Homo sapiens: one gene and its partners. The protein of the gene in region 1 interacts with the protein of each later gene in a biochemical or structural test. Each region holds a gene or a part of one and is shown in the gene's direction. Other genes may lie near its edges.

Evidence for each region. Proteins that work in one complex are often made in the same cells at the same time.
Region 2: the proteins of IRF3 (region 1) and DYRK4 form a complex in vitro, tested with the Homo sapiens proteins (one study listed by BioGRID).
Region 3: of the proteins of IRF3 (region 1) and HERC5, one has a biochemical effect on the other in vitro, tested with the Homo sapiens proteins (one study listed by BioGRID).

The regions. Positions count from the first base shown.
Region 1 is NC_000019.10:49,659,056-49,662,876, reverse strand, and holds the end of IRF3 (interferon regulatory factor 3), read left to right. Parts: intron 1-259; coding exon 260-452; intron 453-548; coding exon 549-929; exon of another isoform or gene 930-1,427; intron 1,428-2,032; coding exon of another isoform or gene 2,033-2,048; coding exon 2,049-2,164; intron 2,165-3,043; coding exon 3,044-3,229; coding exon of another isoform or gene 3,230-3,288; 3' UTR 3,289-3,305; downstream 3,306-3,821.
Region 2 is NC_000012.12:4,607,208-4,614,242, forward strand, and holds the end of DYRK4 (dual specificity tyrosine-phosphorylation-regulated kinase 4), read left to right. Parts: intron 1-119; coding exon 120-180; intron 181-2,947; coding exon 2,948-3,077; intron 3,078-5,335; coding exon 5,336-5,511; intron 5,512-6,304; coding exon of another isoform or gene 6,305-6,307; coding exon 6,308-6,546; 3' UTR 6,547-6,668; downstream 6,669-7,035. UniProt on the Homo sapiens protein: Possible non-essential role in spermiogenesis.
Region 3 is NC_000004.12:88,467,119-88,474,153, forward strand, and holds part of HERC5 (E3 ISG15--protein ligase HERC5), read left to right. Parts: coding exon 1-86; intron 87-512; exon of another isoform or gene 513-588; intron 589-1,227; coding exon 1,228-1,304; intron 1,305-2,038; coding exon 2,039-2,142; intron 2,143-3,495; coding exon 3,496-3,555; intron 3,556-5,290; coding exon 5,291-5,384; intron 5,385-7,035.

The DNA.
Region 1 (3,821 bases):
CTGAAATTCTACCCAGCCTGCTTTGCCCAGGTCTTACCTGCATAGAGCCAGATCCTTGGGTTGGAATGGTAGCACCTGGCGTTCATTAGTGTTTGTTTGGCTGTTGATGCCATGGCTGGCTCTGTCCCCAGGCTGGAAGCCCCTTGAAGGCAGAGCTCAAGCCTGACCTCCCTGCGTTGCTGAGAACAGACCTGGTCCATATGAAGTCTCCAGAAAAGGATATGGAAATGCCTGATTCTCTTTTTTTGTTTCCCTCCAGGAAGACATTCTGGATGAGTTACTGGGTAACATGGTGTTGGCCCCACTCCCAGATCCGGGACCCCCAAGCCTGGCTGTAGCCCCTGAGCCCTGCCCTCAGCCCCTGCGGAGCCCCAGCTTGGACAATCCCACTCCCTTCCCAAACCTGGGGCCCTCTGAGAACCCACTGAAGCGGCTGTTGGTGCCGGGGGAAGGTGAGTGTCAGCTGCAGGCTGGGAGGGCTGAGGTCTGGGCGGCAGCCCCTGATTCTCAACCCCTCTCCCCTTCATGCCGCTGCTGCCGCTGCTCAGAGTGGGAGTTCGAGGTGACAGCCTTCTACCGGGGCCGCCAAGTCTTCCAGCAGACCATCTCCTGCCCGGAGGGCCTGCGGCTGGTGGGGTCCGAAGTGGGAGACAGGACGCTGCCTGGATGGCCAGTCACACTGCCAGACCCTGGCATGTCCCTGACAGACAGGGGAGTGATGAGCTACGTGAGGCATGTGCTGAGCTGCCTGGGTGGGGGACTGGCTCTCTGGCGGGCCGGGCAGTGGCTCTGGGCCCAGCGGCTGGGGCACTGCCACACATACTGGGCAGTGAGCGAGGAGCTGCTCCCCAACAGCGGGCATGGGCCTGATGGCGAGGTCCCCAAGGACAAGGAAGGAGGCGTGTTTGACCTGGGGCCCTTCATTGTAGGTGAGTGAGACAGGGGCTTCGACCTGGCCAGTACAAAGCAGCCTGCACAGTGGTTAACAACTCAGGATTGGCCGGGCACGGTGGCTCACGCCTGTAGTCCCAGCACTTTGGGAGGCTGAGGTGGGCAGATGACAAGTTCAGGAGTTCGAGACCAGCCTGGTCAACATAGTGAAACCCCATCTCTACTAAAGATACAAAAAAATAGTCGGGCGTGGTGGCACGTGCCTGTAATCCCAGCTACTCGGGAGGCTGAGGCAGGAGAATTGCTTGAACCCAGGAGGCGGAGATTGCAGTGAGCTGAGATCGCACCACTGCACTCTAGCCTGGTGACAGAGTAAGACTCCATCTCGAACAACAAAAAAAAAAGAACTCATGATTAGGACTGAATTCAGACGCTGGCTGCCCTTGGCCCGCTGTATAACCGAGGCAAAGGACTTTGCCCTGAGCCCGTGGAATCCAAGGATGGTCTCCTCTCTCTACCTGCCTGCCAGCGCTGGGGTGAGACACAGGCCCAGTACACAGAGCCTGCTCAGGGAATTAGCTGCCACTGTCATCATCATCGTAACTAATGATGGTGAACAGACCAATAGCAGGAAAGCTACATCCCTTAGGGTTTCGCTGTGCAGTGGCACTTTCTGCCATGATGGAAATGACAGTCACCTGCACTGTCCGGTGCAGCAGCCACTAGCCACAGGGGCCAAGCACTCAGGTGAGGCGAGTGCAACCAGGACGTGATTCGTTTTAATTGGTTACAATTTAAACTGAAATAACCTTACATGACTAATGGCTGCAATTGGACAATGCAGCCTCAGACAGGACTGAATGCCAACCAGCTTCTCCAGATTCACTGAGCATCCTTGGGAGCATGGGCCCCCTACTCTGGGCCTGTTATGAATGCTGAGGCTTGGGGGCTTGGGGGTGTGGCCTTCCAACAACCCCACCCTGATGGGAGGGAGGGAGGGAGGGAAGGAGGGGACTTTCCCCAAACAAGCAGTCCCCTGGTCGAGGCAGCAGAGGGCCTTAGGTCAGGGGAGGTGGTGGGGGTTATCATTCAAGTTTACGGGGAAGGGTGGGTAGAGGGTCCTCTTCTCATCCCTGACTAGGCTCCTGGGCCCCCAGATCTGATTACCTTCACGGAAGGAAGCGGACGCTCACCACGCTATGCCCTCTGGTTCTGTGTGGGGGAGTCATGGCCCCAGGACCAGCCGTGGACCAAGAGGCTCGTGATGGTCAAGGTGCCTGCAGACCTGAGTCCCTGGGGCTGAAAGGGGTGGCCTTACAGAGGGAAGAGGTTGCTCCCAGGAACTCCAACTCCCAGAGGGCCCTCTAAAAAACTGCAACTTCCAAGATCTCTGCAATAACCAGTTTTTCATCCCCGGGAGCTCCTTCCCATGGCCTCACCTGCAGAACCTGTTTTGAACTCTCTAAACCAGTGGCCCCCAAACTATTTGGCACCAGGGACCAGTCTCATGGAAGATAATATTTCCACGGACAGGGAGGTGTGGTTTCGGGATGAAACTGCTCCACTGCAGATCATCAGGCATTAGATTCTCTTAAGGAGCAGCCGATCCCTCACGTGCGCAGTTCGATAGAGTTTGTGCTCCTCTGAGAATCTAATGCTGCCGCTGATCTCACAGAAGGCAGAGCTCAGGCAGTAATATTCCCCCACCCGCTGCTCACATCCTGCTGTGCAACCTGGTCCCTAACAAGCCGTAGGGGGGTTGGGGACCCCTGCTCTAAACCATGTAGAAGCTGGTGGACTCAAGTTTTAGCTGCCATTGTGAGGCCATGGCTGTGGCTCCCAGGAGTCAAGATCACAGACTGCTCAGCCCTGACGTGTGTGTGTGTGTGTGTTTGTGTGTGTGTGTAAAACTACAACTCCCAGCAGCCCTAGGCCTATGGTTCAGTTACAGCAGGGGGTGTGTGTGTGTGTGTGTGTGTGTGTGTGTGTGTGTGTGTGTGTAAAACTACAACTCCCAGCAGCCCTAGGCCTATGGTTCATCCTAGGTTACAGCAGGGGCTGCAGGGAGTTGTAGTCCTCCAAGCCCTGACTCCTACCTTGGTGGACAGTGGCTGGGTGTTTTCCCTGACTCCTGTCCCCACTTCCCCTGCAGGTTGTGCCCACGTGCCTCAGGGCCTTGGTAGAAATGGCCCGGGTAGGGGGTGCCTCCTCCCTGGAGAATACTGTGGACCTGCACATTTCCAACAGCCACCCACTCTCCCTCACCTCCGACCAGTACAAGGCCTACCTGCAGGACTTGGTGGAGGGCATGGATTTCCAGGGCCCTGGGGAGAGCTGAGCCCTCGCTCCTCATGGTGTGCCTCCAACCCCCCTGTTCCCCACCACCTCAACCAATAAACTGGTTCCTGCTATGATCACTTGTGCGTGTCTGGTGTTGGGTGCCCTCTGACCCAATATGGTTGTTATTCCCGCTCAGGGTCTCAGTTTACCCATCTGTGCAGCTATATACAACTCAGGTGCTCAATGCATGAAGACCAAGCACTGCAGGGGGCAGCTGACACCTCCTCACTTCTGCCCAGGGACCTGGTGGGTGATGGCTGTCCCCGTGTTGTAGACCAAGACACAGGCTGGGAGAGGCGCAAAGGTCACAGAGTAGGAAACACAAAGACTAGCCAGAACCCAGGCCCCCTGCCTTGCCTATGAACAGTTTGGGCAAGTGGTCCTTCTCCTTCCAGGCCTCAGGCTCCCCTCCACGTGGGGCTGGAGGGGTCTTGGTAAAGGGGCTCTGCGGCCACCCTGGAGCCTGCAAAGCCTGCCTGCCTGGTGACCCTGGGCACTGTCACCTCTCCTGGTTGGGCCGCAGTTCTGGGTGATGAAACTGGCAGAAGCCAGCGCAGCCCTGACTCACCCTTCGGCCCTTGCTGCTCTGT
Region 2 (7,035 bases), on another chromosome or scaffold:
ACTTAATGCTTTGAATCCTTATCTGTAGAAGGCAAAGCTTGGCCAAAGTACGCTCCACCCCTCAGCCTTTGAATCTGTGCTCCCACAAAGAATGAACCAATTGAATTATCCTTATTAAGGTGCTGGGTCTGCCGCCAGCCGGCTTCATTCAGACAGCCTCCAGGAGACAGACATTCTTTGGTAAGTCCTAGTGTGTCTCATGAGGTGTCACAGGCCTTGAAGACACCTGCCATACCTTAAGGCTCATTTCATTCTTTTCCCCTGGCCACATACCAAAGGGCTGTGATTAAGAGCGTCTTTCAGAGAAGTAAAAGATAATGAGCAGGGGAATCGGATAGCATGTTGGAGATGGGATGGGGGAGTCACAGTGGGAACAGGGTCTTGACAGTAAAAATGCTCAGGAGGAGGAGAATAGCCAGGTCCCTGCTCAGAAGAGCTATCAGCAAATATTGCAACCTCAAAATATTGTAACTGCATCCTCTCCCGGAAGTTCTCCCCACTCTCCCAAGCAACTTGCCCTCTCACACTATGCACTGTGCAGGGAAATCAAAGAGCAGAAGCTTCATTTCAAGAATAGTGGAAAATTCCATTGCTGCATTATTGTTTCCCCTGCTAAAATTCTTCTTATCCTCCAGACCTTACTGTGCCAGGTTCATTGCCAATGGTTAAGCAAGGACTTAGTTTTGCTTTGATGTGTTGTGGCTGGTAGTTATGTACGTGTCATCTGTCTGATTGTTGGGAGTAAACTTCGTCCACAGTCCAGGCTGCCCCTCTCCTCATAATTCCCAGAATTCTGGATTTTTATGATCCTCCGCCTTTCTATTTAAGTGGTCCTATACAAGATGGAAGGATGGGTCGACAAGGTATCAACTGAGGCAGGGCTTTCAACGTACACGCACCAAAAAGATGCAGCAAATCTCATACCTAAAATCCCTTTAAAGAACCACAGGAAGCTAAGAGTCCCAGATAGAAACAGCCAGAGTGGGCTGAAGGTCAGCAAAGTGGAGCAAAGCCAAATAGGAGGAAAAGGGAACTCCACAGACAGGGACTCCATGCTACCTGGAGTGACATTTCTGACCAGCCATTGTTGTCAGGTCGGTTCATGGACTCCCTCTGACCACACAATCCCAGACATTCCTGGCCCTCCCACCTCTGATTTTCAACTGCGAGCAGCTTCTGAATATGTATGCAAATCACACAATTTCTGTTCACAACTTGCTCCATCAGTAGGAAGGTCCAAAACACTCTCGTGGGGAGATCCTTTAGGATAAAAGGGTTTGGGTCATGCTGGTCAGTATGAACTGATTCAGCCATGTGGGGGTTATAATTTGTCTATTTCTGTACCATTTGGTAAAAAGCCACAGCCCTGAGCCCTGCTACAACTGCAGGCTCCCTGGCCCTCTCCCAGGACTCCTTAAACTCTCCATGATCCAAAAACCTAAAAGCTGAAGGCCAAGCAAGCAGAAGTTCTCTATGATCCTACTCCAGTGCCAGGGCTGTCTTCCATTCTGATTAGTTGGTTCCATGCCATTCATTCCAATGGTTAATTCTTTTAAACATCATCTGGTAATCATGGCTGGAGCTTTGGAGACCTTGCCTCTGAGCAGGGCAGTGTCCTGGTTGCCATAGAATGGTGACCACACATTAACCGAGCAATCTGGCGGTAGGCAAAGGATCTGGCTGGCTCCCCAGTATAATTTACACATGGAGCACGCGAACTGGTCTTTGGATCCCAAATATACTTTTTCTACCCACAACTTAATAATTCAGCCTTTTGGATTAGGCAGAGTCACTGTGGGAAGACATATCTTGAGCCTGTAACTCTGAACTCATGAGATAGCATCTAGGTGGGGACTAGCAGGAAGGGAACACAGAGCACCTTCGTAGGAACGTACTAAAGACATAGGCATGTCTACTTCATAGAGTTCCTTATTTCTACCATCAGCACTAGGCTTTAGGATGGTGATGGGGTTTTGGCAGCAATATCCATGTCTTCACTTCCTGTGAAAGAAGGAATGTTGCTGAGAACTGCATCTTCGTCAGTGTTTTCCAAACTCTATCCAAATGTAAGAATCATTTGGGGACTTGGCAAAAAAGCGAATTCCTGTGATTCTCTTCTATAAGCTATGCTATGGGAAGATTGCGATAGGACCCAGGATTCGACGTTTTTAATGACGGCTCCTTGTGATTCTTATGACAAAATAAGTTTGGGAAACACGGTTGTCCACTTCAGTTCTTGACTGTTCCTTTCCCAGGTTTGGGCTGCCAACTGCTCCTCTGCCCCGGGCGACTCCTAGTTAATACCCCTAATTAGCAGCAAAATGGTGTTGTCTCAAGGCTGGTAAGATATTATACTTAGGTGGCCCAGGTGGCTCAGGTAGTAAGAAGGGGATGGAGGGAATGACTGATGAGGGCCAGAGTGAGAAAAAACAATTACATGATCATGACTTTAGGAGCTTTGTTATTGATAAGACTGTGAGCTTGATTCTTCTTTGGTCATTGGTAAAAAGGACAATGTAGGATGAAGTGGGAGGGCTAAGGCCATGATCCAAAAGGAAATGGATATTTGTACAATTTCACAGGACCTTGTCACTTAACATTTACTTTACCATTGTCATTATTATCATTAGCATTATTATTTTATCTTGGTTGGTGTTAAGCCATTTAAATTATTTCTTTGATTTGGAGAGGAGGCAGTGGGAAGGAAGTTCAGAACATACTGAATAGTAGGAAAAAATCAATTTTTAAAGTAAATTGCATTCCTTGGGTAATCTACACATGGTTATTTCAAACTGAGTGTGTGTGTGTGTGTTTATTGGGGTGTGGCATGAGGCGAGTGTGTAAGACAGAGAGCAAAAGAGCTACAGAGGCCACTCTAAGCAGCAGCATCATGTGACCACTAAAGATTTACACCTGAAACTAAATACAGAATGTTCTATCTCTACAGATTCCAAAGGTTTTCCTAAAAATATAACCAACAACAGGGGGAAAAAAAGATACCCAGATTCCAAGGACCTCACGATGGTGCTGAAAACCTATGACACCAGCTTCCTGGACTTTCTCAGAAGGTGTTTGGTGTGAGTTTGTTGGGACATCTCTGCTTCTGGGTTTCCTCTTAAATGCTGTACTTTGACACACGTTTGCTGGTGAAAGACTAAGGCTGGGAGATAGTTATAAAAGTAACAAGAAATGCTAACAATAGAGCTTTAAAGTCTACAAATTGCTTCCACATCTGTTGTTTCATCAGACATCTCTCCCTACTGTGTGGTTGTCAGGGCAGATGATTTGCTCTGTTTTGCACGTATGGAGGTTGGGGTTCAAAGAGATTAAGTGACCTGCCCTGGAATACACAGCGTATGGTAGAGTTTGTCATCTTCCTGGCCTCAAACTGCCTGGCAGTGAGATTGTTTGCCAGTCCTAAATGTCTTCTGCTCTGTGAGCTGAAGCCAACCCCCTGACTGCTTGTTGTAATGATTTGCATACACATCCAGTGTAAACTGGTTTCAGGGCCTGTCCCCCTCCCCCTAGGATTTAGTACCCAAATCGTCTTATATTAGGGAATTAGGGGGAAGGTGAGCTGTAAACCATTTATTATGTACAACTTTTTATAATCTATATGCATATTTTGAATCTTAGAAATTAGATCTGTACTTAAGTCGTAGTACCCAGCACAGCACCCAGTTTAAAAGGTGTTTAGAAAACGTTAGCTATTCTTATTATTTTACGACTATTAAAGAGGTAAATCTATCTCCACAGAGTGGCAAGTAGATTATCCATGTGATACTTGGCAAGTCATCACTTTTTTCTGGGCCTCAGTGTTCTTTCCTATAAAATACGGTATTCCTAAGCTCCCTTCCAGTTCTATCAGTCCTATAATTTAGTATTTTTAGAAGACCATATCATTACAGTCTCTTATTCTTCCAGTTGGATGGAGTGATGTTATCAAAATACTCTTCTGGCATCTGTGCTCTCTGGAATTTCAGTACTAGCTCAGAGGGTGAACCATGAGGTAATGATGAAAGTATTCCCATCGTAGGGGGTCATGCTATTCACTCATCAGAATAATCAAGGTAGGGAAGGATCCTGTACCCCATCTTTACCCCTACCTTAACAAATGACAGAAACCAACTGCTGAGACAGATGGGTTATCCAGAAACCTCAACCATCCAGAACACAGCTCAGCACCAAGGAAGGCATTATTTTCTTCTTTAGTGCAAAGGACTGATTACTCATAACTTGCAAGAGGCAGTCAGGCTGATGGGGACTGTTATCTTATATATATATATTGCTAATTAGAAAATCTTTGAGACTAAAAGTTTTGAGCCAAGTTCAATAGGCATAAATGTAAAGCCCCGTGTCTAGACTTTGTAGGCGAACTCCAGAAGTCCAGGAAAGGAGAGATGTTGTTTAACAGCAATTCATTTGACACAGAAATGAGAGTTTGAGCTGTTTTAGGACCTTAATGAGTCTAGAATGTTAATACTGTCTCCCTGCAGTTATAGAAGCTATTCCCACCATGATGGACACCAGTTAGACAACTGCTAAAATATCCTTATTTCAGAAGGTGGTCAGATGGTGAAAACCATATCATATGATCATTAGTTAGTAGCGATGTAAATATTTTCAGATGGTTGAAGGACTGAACCATAAAATTAGGATAGTTATTTTGTGTGATGGTAATGTGTTGATGAATTAGGACCTGGGTAAAAGTTACTGGGAAGCAAACCAGTTTTGGCACAATAAAAGTCAAGAACTTTTAAAGAATCGGAGTTTTTTCAGAATTGGAATAGATGGTTCTGTGAGTTAGTATCTTGTCACTGAAATTACTCAAGAATTGCAGGGTGATTCCATGATGGTAGTTCAGTCAATGTATTCTGCTACTGTATTACAAGTTTGATTGGATTATATCCAAGTCCCCTTGCAAATCTTAATATTCTAGAATTCTGTAAATCTCCTTGCAATATTTTTGAAGCCCCAATTCTGTAGTCTGGAAATTGAAATCTTTGTTTTAATATTCTTAGCTTACCAAACCCTAAATCCTATTGATTAAGCTTTTGTAAAATAATATTTCTTATAAGGAAATTTCTAGGAATGCTGGAAGACTTGGACTGTAATATATATTCCCTGGCTTGTTATACACATCTTCTAAAAAGATTATTTCCATTAGTTGTTTCCAGGTACTTTTAAGTTATATGCCATAATCTCTGTTCTATGATTATATATCTTTGAGATATCAACATAGCTTAAATAAAAATCTTTATTGGGTTTTAAAAATGTTTTAATATATTAAAAGGAAATAAAACAATAACCCATGTGGGGCTTTGTTGGGGTGCAGATGGGAACCTTCTCTTCGCATGACCCCGGACCAGGCCCTCAAGCATGCTTGGATTCATCAGTCTCGGAACCTCAAGCCACAGCCCAGGCCCCAGACCCTGAGGAAATCCAATTCCTTTTTCCCCTCTGAGACAAGGAAGGACAAGGTTCAAGGCTGTCATCACTCGAGCAGAAAAGGTACAGCCTGTCAAATAACCAGTCCTAGTCCCACAGTCCGGGAATTAATATTCTAGAATTCTGTAAATCTCCTTGTGATATTTTTGAAGCCCCAGTTCTGTAGTCTGGAAATTAAAATCTTTGTTTTTAATATTCTGTTTAATATGCTGTTTAAGCATTTCTGAAGGATTTGCATGTCAATTTCTCTAACCTCAACCTGGGATAATTCTTGTGGCTACATCATGACTAGCCTGCCATTTCTTACCTTTGGGATTTTCCTTTTCAGGGAAATTTGGCATTAGCCTGGATCTTTTTTGCCCCTTATTAGGATTTTCCATTTTTCTCCTATAATCAATTTCCTTTCTCCTCCTCCCTTTTTCATTAACTGCGTCCACCCCTTTATGCCCTATAATTACCTTTAGAATTTCTGTCAGTGCCAGATTATGGCATTATGCAAATTTTTATATGCAATATAGCCTAGTGGTTAGGTACATGGTCACAAGAGTCAGGTTACCTGGGGATTAAATTCTGGTTCTACCACTTATCAGGTGTGGACTTAACCTCTCTGTAGCTCAGTATCTCCATTTATGAGAATGAGAATAAAGCCTGTTCTCCAGGGTCGCTGAAATGATCAGACGAATTAGTAAATGTACAGTGCTTAGAATAATGCCCGGCACATTGGAGGTGCTTTACAAATGAACTGTTTTTATATCATCACGGTCATCGTTTCCACTAAGTGATGTACAACCTAAAGGACAATTAACATATAATCCACATTTGAATCTTGTTCCCTTCTGTCTTCTCTCTCCTTTAGCAGATGAGATCACCAAAGAGACTACAGAGAAAACAAAAGATAGCCCCACGAAGCATGTTCAGCATTCAGGTGATCAGCAGGACTGTCTCCAGCACGGAGCTGACACTGTTCAGCTGCCTCAACTGGTAGACGCTCCCAAGAAGTCAGAGGCAGCTGTCGGGGCGGAGGTGTCCATGACCTCCCCAGGACAGAGCAAAAACTTCTCCCTCAAGAACACAAACGTTTTACCCCCTATTGTATGACCTTTGCTGAGGGTATGTCCTGCTCCTTTCCACCAGTGATTTGTATTAAGACAGCACTTATATTGTACAATACTTCAGACTGTTTTTTTTAAATACATAAAACTTTATGTTAAAAAACTCTATTAACATGGCCAATTGGCATGACTCCTCTTATGAGGGATGGGGGAGGATGTCCTTGCACTTAAACTCATTCCATATGCATCTGTGTGTGTAGAGGGGGCGGGTAGTTTTGAACTCTCAGTGTTACAGCATCATTAATGGAACTCCAAACAAAAGAAATTTTTTTTCTTCTTGCCCATGACTGCCAACCTATGTCAGGATTTTTGTTTGAAAATGATAGAAGCTGAATTCAAAAGCAGTTTAAACAACGGAAGACACTTATTGACTTACATAATTGGGGCATCAGAAAAGGTAGATGTAGTTTCAGGCGCAGCAGGATCCAGGAATTCAAATGAGGTTGTAGGGCTCAGACTCCCTCTTCATCTATTA
Region 3 (7,035 bases), on another chromosome or scaffold:
AGATGGACAACTGGGAAATGGTGGAACACGTGACCAGCTGATGCCGCTTCCAGTGAAAGTATCATCAAGTGAAGAACTCAAACTTGGTAAATTCTATAGGAACATAGGGTTTGGCATAGTATCTTTTTAGAGAAAATGATTTTTCTAACTAGGTAATGTGGCAAAGAAAGCAACATATGACTATGAAGGGAGTTTCTCTAAATACTGGTTTCATTTTTTACTGGTAAACAATTCAAGAGTCAGTCTAATTTACTGAGGCAAAATAATTATTCTATATTACTCCTTCAGATTAGGATTAATGTGAATTTAAATGATAAAATAGACAATGGATTCAGAGGCATATGCAGCTCTCATTCCAGTTTGCAAGAGACTTACTAATTCTTGTAATTAGTTGTTTACTAATTCTTGTAATTGGCTGGTTGCCCTGGTTAAGTTGATCCACAGTCATATAAAACCCTCAGAATAATGAGCAATCAACGTATACCTGGCACTGAACTGTGCTCAGCACTTACTTGTGTTATCTCACCAATCCTTGTAACAGTTCCTGGGAGGTGTATTCTGTCACTCCTCTTTTACTGGAGGATAAAGAGACTTGGAGAGAAAAGGGTTAGCCACTTAATCATGGCCAGTAAGTGGTTTGTCTGGAGTTGAACCCGTGCCCTTTATGACCTCAGAGTCTGAGCTCTGAAACACTCCATTGTAGAAGCACCTTGGAGCATTTCTGTTACTTGTTTCTGAAAGCTTAGTGGTGACCTCAAGTAACAAAATCTACTCATTTCTTGTAGGAAAACGAACAGAGTTATTTCCTTAAGCAGCATGTATTATCTTTGATTCCTTATAACAGTTACATGGGCTTAAAGTACTTATATTCTTTATAGCCAGCAGTCATTGCTTAAATCTTGAAAACATGGTTTTTAGTAATGGGAGTTGAATTAAACTGATAACATTTAGCTAATCAAATATTTGCATTTTATATATAAATATTTGTATTATGTATATTAAACTGATGTCACATGTCCACCTTGTGAATTACCTATGTTTGCCAACTAGACTTTACTCCAAAGGATATGTATTTCAGCTGCTTAATTGGCAGAAAATGTACTAAGTTTTGTCTATTAAGAAGAAAAGATGACTACGTTTAAGAAGAATCTGAAGTTATTTAAATTGAACATGCATGTTTGTGCCAAATGACTTTCTAAAACTCTTACTCTTTGTGCATCCTTTCAGAAAGCCATACCTCAGAAAAGGAGTTAATAATGATTGCTGGAGGGAATCAAAGCATTTTGCTCTGGATAAAGAAAGAGGTAAAAATAGATCTCCAGGTGTTCTATAACCTGGTATTTTAAGCAAAACTAAGGGTTCTAGTATCCCAGTTTGGTGAATTCCAAAATCATCAGTTTACCAGGCTGACTTTTTGGGGGATAGCTGGACATTACTGATCCTTTATTGTCTAAACTACATCAGTATTTTCCCACAAAAATCAGCAGATTTTTCTCTGGTGAATGTCTAATCAGTGTGATTTCCATAGGCTATACTTACCTTTTGGGGGCTACTTGCCAATGATGTTTGGTCAGTATCCTTGCAAACAACAGAGTGACAGATTCTAAAAATGACTTTGCAGGCCAGTACTAAGAAAGACACCAAGGTTCATGGGCTTGCAAATAAAAAGTCCATAACTTCCCTGCCCTACTTCACCAAGTGAAATCGAGTTCCTCACACTTCTGCACACAGCTCTTTCAGGATCTTCCCTTCCCTTCAAGGCTGTCTGATGTTCAGTTTAATTTGATTGTATTTGTATAAAGTGCTGAGTGTTGAGTCCTCAAAGAAATTTACTTTCAGTCTAAGCCCCCTTGGACAAGAAAGTGGCAACCAGGCAAATGATTGATTACTTATTTGTTGAGTATCACTTTGTGATTGTCCCAGGGCTGTATTACACATATTTAAAAGTCAGTTTTACTCTCTAGAGTGTACCTAAAAGTTGGGTGCCTATCTCTGATGTGTCTAAATTATTGTATTTTACTTTCCTGTTTGTTTACAGAATTCATATGTTAATCTGAAGAGGACAATTCCTACTCTGAATGAAGGGACTGTAAAGAGATGGATTGCTGATGTGGAGACTAAACGGTGGCAGAGCACAAAAAGGTACACCCCACAGTCTGACTCTCTGCTTATATATCACTCTCAAGTATCATTTCCCAAACTGGTTCTGCACAGCAATATGAGATTTTGTAGTCAGGGTTTTCCAGAGAAACAAACTCATAGGATATGTGTGTATTTCTGTCTCTATCTTTATCTCTATCATGTCTGTCTGTCCATCTATGTATCTATGGAGGGGAGAGAGAGAGATTATTTTAAGGAATTGGCTTATGAGATTGTAGGGGCTGGCAAGTCCAAAATCTGTAGGGCAGGCCAGCAGGCTGGAGACTTGGGGAGGAGTTGATGTTGCAGCTCAAGTCTGAAGGCAATCTAAAAGCAGAATTTCCTCTTCTTTGGGTGACCTCAGCCTTTTCTCTTAAGGCCTTCAACTGGATGAGGCTCACTCACATTATGGAAGGTCCTTTCTTTTTATTCACTTGTTCAAGTGCTTTACTCAGTTTACCATTTTAAATGTTAATCTCATCTAAAAAAATACTTTCATAGAAACATCCAGAATAATATTTGACCAAATATCTTGGTACCATGGCCTAGCCAAGTTGACATATAAAACTAACCCATCACAACTAGCATGTAAGCGCCATGAGGACAGCTTTCTTTACTGTAGGGCTTCTCCAGGCCTCTGTTTATGTATATTGTGACTCTCTGGCCAGAAAATAGAGTCTATAGTGTTTCCCAGTCCCATTTGATCCTGGAACCATTAGTTTGTGTACCTGTTATTCTTAGCTGAACAATTTGTACCATTCTTCTCTAAACCATAGAACTCCTATAGGTTTACAGAACTCCTACCTATTCTTACAAACATCATCTTTTAGAAATATTTTTAGGTATGGCTTTCTAATTCTGGAAAATGATTGTACAAAGTAGTTGCACAAAATAGTTGCATCATAATTTGCAGAGCATAAATAATTAAGAACTGTACAACTACTTCTAAGATGAAACTGAGCATACTCCTTCCCCCATTTAATTTCTGGTAATTTATTTCTACTTCAGTGGAATAGAAATAAATAGGACTTGCATAGTTGGTGGGGTGGGAGTATTTTGTTTGTTCAAGAAAGTTCTGACCATAAATCAAGCCTTTCCTCTTTATTTGAGGCTTCTCTGAGTATGTATAAACTTTTTTATTTCCCATGTTTGCCACTGAAATTTTGAGATTTACCAAACAGAATGGACTTTTAGAAGCCAAGCCAAGGTAATATGCATACAGATAGGAGACAAATGGAGAGGTTGGAAGGATAGTTATAAGATGTGGTATTTATCATGTCTCATGCTGTAAAGAAAGAGGCTGTATGTATGTATACCATGTGATTTGGTTTAACCAGTGTCTTATTACTAATATAGGGAAATCCAAGAGATATTTTCATCTCCTGCTTGTCTAACTGGAAGTTTTTTAAGGAAAAGGTAATATATGTAATAAATTAATTGTATTAAATTGTATTAAGAGTACCGTGAAAGAGGATAAAAAAATGATTGGAGAGTAAAATAGCTGTGTGTTCATCCCTTTTTAAAAATTTTTTTTAACAAAAGTAAATATATGTTTGCTGTAGAAAATGTCAAAAATACACACAATAAAAAGAAAGTGAAAATCTTCCATAATCCATCACTTAAGAGTAATAGCTAGCACTTACGTATATGATTATATTTTTTCATGCAAATGTATTCTTTTAAAAAAAATGAGATCATACTGGTTCTTTGTTTTTTTCTTTTTTTTTTTGAGACAGGGTCTTGCCCTGTCGTTGCCCATGCTTTAATGCAGTTCTGTGATCTTGGCTCATTGTAACCTCTGCCTCCTAGGCTCAAGCAGTCCTCCCACCTCAGCCTGAGTAGCTGGGGCTTCAGACACATGGCACTACACCCAGCTAATTTTTGTATTTTTTTGTAGAGCCAGAGTTTTACCATGTTGGCCAGGCTGGTCTCGAACTCCTGAGCTCAGGCAATCTACCAGCCTTGGCCTCCCCAAGTGCTGGGATTTCAGGTGTAAGCCACCATGCCCAGCTGGATCATATTGTTTATACATTGTTTTCTACCTAATATTTGCCCATTTTACATTTTATTCTATCTTTTTTGGTAATTTTTTTTTTTTTGAGACAAGGTCTCACTCCATCACCCAGGCTGGAGTTACAGCATCTTGGTTCTTGGGCTCAAGCATCATCAAACTCTTGGGCTCAAGCAAAACTCCCACCTTAGCCTTCCACGTAGCTGGGACTACAGGCACGTGCCACCACCTCCTGCTAATTTTTTAGCTTTTGTAAAGACAGCAGCTTTGCTATGTTGCCCAGGCTGGTCTTGAACTCCTGGCCTCAAGCAGTCCTCCCACCTCAGCCTCCTGGTGTTGGGATTATAGGTGTGAGCTACCGCACCCAGCCGGTAACATAATTTAATGGCTGCATGACCTTCCATTAGAAGGTCTTCCATGAGAAGATACTTAAACATTTCATTAATAACTTTATATTGAAGTACTAAGAAATTATTGGTCAGAAGCCCTCTCTTTTGGTTCCCACTTTTCAGTCCATTTAACGGGAAGAAATGGATGTATTTTTTAGAAATGGGAAAAATGTTTATCTTTTTTCTGTCTTCCTTCCTTCCTTCCTGTGGTCAGTCCTTTCTTCCTTCCTTCCTTCCTTCGAAAAACCTTTATCTTTTTTCTATGGCCCGCCCTTCTTCCCTCCCTTCTTTCCTCCCTCCCTCCCTCCCTCCTTCCCTTCCTTCTTTCTTTTCTTTTTTTCTTTCTTTCTTTTTCTGAGGCAGGATCTTGCTCTGTCACCCAGGCTGGAGTACAGTGGCATGTTCACAACTCACTGCAGCCTTGATCTCTCAAGCTCAAGCGATTATCCTGTCTCAGCCTCCCTCTGTGGCTATTTTTTTTAAACTGGGAAATATTAATTTTTTTAATCTATTACAGATAAGACAGCATCTGAGTTAAAGTCTTATGGTATATACAGTTAAAGCAGCCTTGATATTTTTTGGTATTTTAGAAAAAATCATGTTTACTACATTGCATTTGGATTTAGACAATTTATTATAGTTACACACTTGAGAAAAAAGGTAATTTTGTTGAAATGGGGCAAGCTCTAGAAGAAACTTTGCATCTAGGGAGATAATCTAACAAAATACTTAATTTATCTTTCTTCTACAGAAGAACTACAGAAATGATGCCTGTTTATTTGGACTTAAATAAAGCAAGAAACATCTTCAAGGAGTTAACCCAAAAGGACTGGATTACTAACATGGTATCTTCAGATTGTTATGTGGAGAAAGAAAATACACCAGAATATTTCTTAAAAGAACTCAAAATTTCAGAAGAAATGTTTTGTGTTAAGGGATTCTCCGAGACCTTGTAGCATATTCAGATTAAGTTAAACTCAGATAACATTTAGGAGTTTGCCCTTTTAGGGTGAAATAGTTGGCATAGTAGTCACACAGGTTACAGATATTCTAAATAGTGTGTCTGTACACAAACACACATACACATATATGCATACACATTCGTAGAGGGAAGTTTTTCAACTCAGGGCTTTAGGAAGATGATTAAGGATTTGTTGAGATTGGTACACTAGAATAAGAACATTTTATATGCAAAGCATAAATGTAGAAATGAGAACATTTTTTCTGATATGAATATCCCTCTCACCAGGGACTGCCTGGATTCTTTTTTTTTTTTTTTTTCCATTCTACTTTTCTGTAGATTCTAGAATGTTCTTGTTCCTTATGGGATGATTGTTTCCTGTTTCAGCACTGTTACTGCTATCTTTAGGTTTTCTTTTTGCAGGTGCTCCAAACATGCTTCCTTTATTTTTATTTTTATTTTTTTGGAAACGGAGTCTCGCTTTGTTGCCCAGGCTGGAGTCCAGTGGTGCGATCTCGGCTTACTGCATGCTTCGTTTATTAATTTAGTTTTTCTTAATGTAGTTTTTATTATTTCCCTATTTTATTTTACTGGTTGATATGGGGATACTACTTTCTGTTCTACTCTCCATTTTTTTCTCTCTGGGTCGCACTGTAGTTCCTTCTTTCTTTCTCTCTCCTTCCCTCCTCCCCTCCTTCCTCCCTCTAGCCTCACCCCATTTTTTAATCTCTCTCTGTGTTCATATCCCTCTTCTCTTTCCCTCTCAATCTTTGATCTCTCACCCTTCCTCCTTTCAGCTCCCGCACTTGCTCTGTTTGCCACAACTAGCATTTTCTATTTCAGCTGCAAGTTTTCTCATTCGCTCCTTTCTTTCAAGGAAAGATGGAAAGTTCAGTTCTCTTAACTTTGGCAGAACCACAGCCCCACTGGGGGTCCGAGGTGAAATGGTTCCCTAATTATGTACCTTTATTGGGACCCTACAACACTTAGTGCTGCCTGTATCAACAACCCAGAAACTACTCAGTGGACTATTTCATCAACATTTGTTAGAGCTCATTTTCTTTTGTTTTCTAAAATCCTCCTGTGGGGGCCAGTTTAACTTTCTTTCTGTAAGATTCTGAGTCATTGCTACTAAATACAACCATGGAAAGATTACCAAAAATAGAAGCCCTTTTGTGCGTCTGTGAAGGGAAGGGATTGGATCAGTTCATCATTAAGGGCTCCTTCTGTTTACTAATTATACCTTGATTGTGCCACAAAAAGAACATATGGTATGTAAATGAAATAATCATAGGGCATCCTTGACCTCCATTGTTTCAGAATAAGATGATTGGATTAGAAGACCTGTAATGTTTCTTTCTATCTTGAGGTTCTGCGATACGGACTCTCAGACCTTTGGCATGTGTTCATTTATTCAGCAAACATTTGAATACTTGCTGTGTGCTGGGCACTGTAATGATGACTCGATGAAGAATAAAAGAGACATACTCCCTGTGCTTTAGAAGCTCATGGTGTAGTAAGGGAGACAGATACAT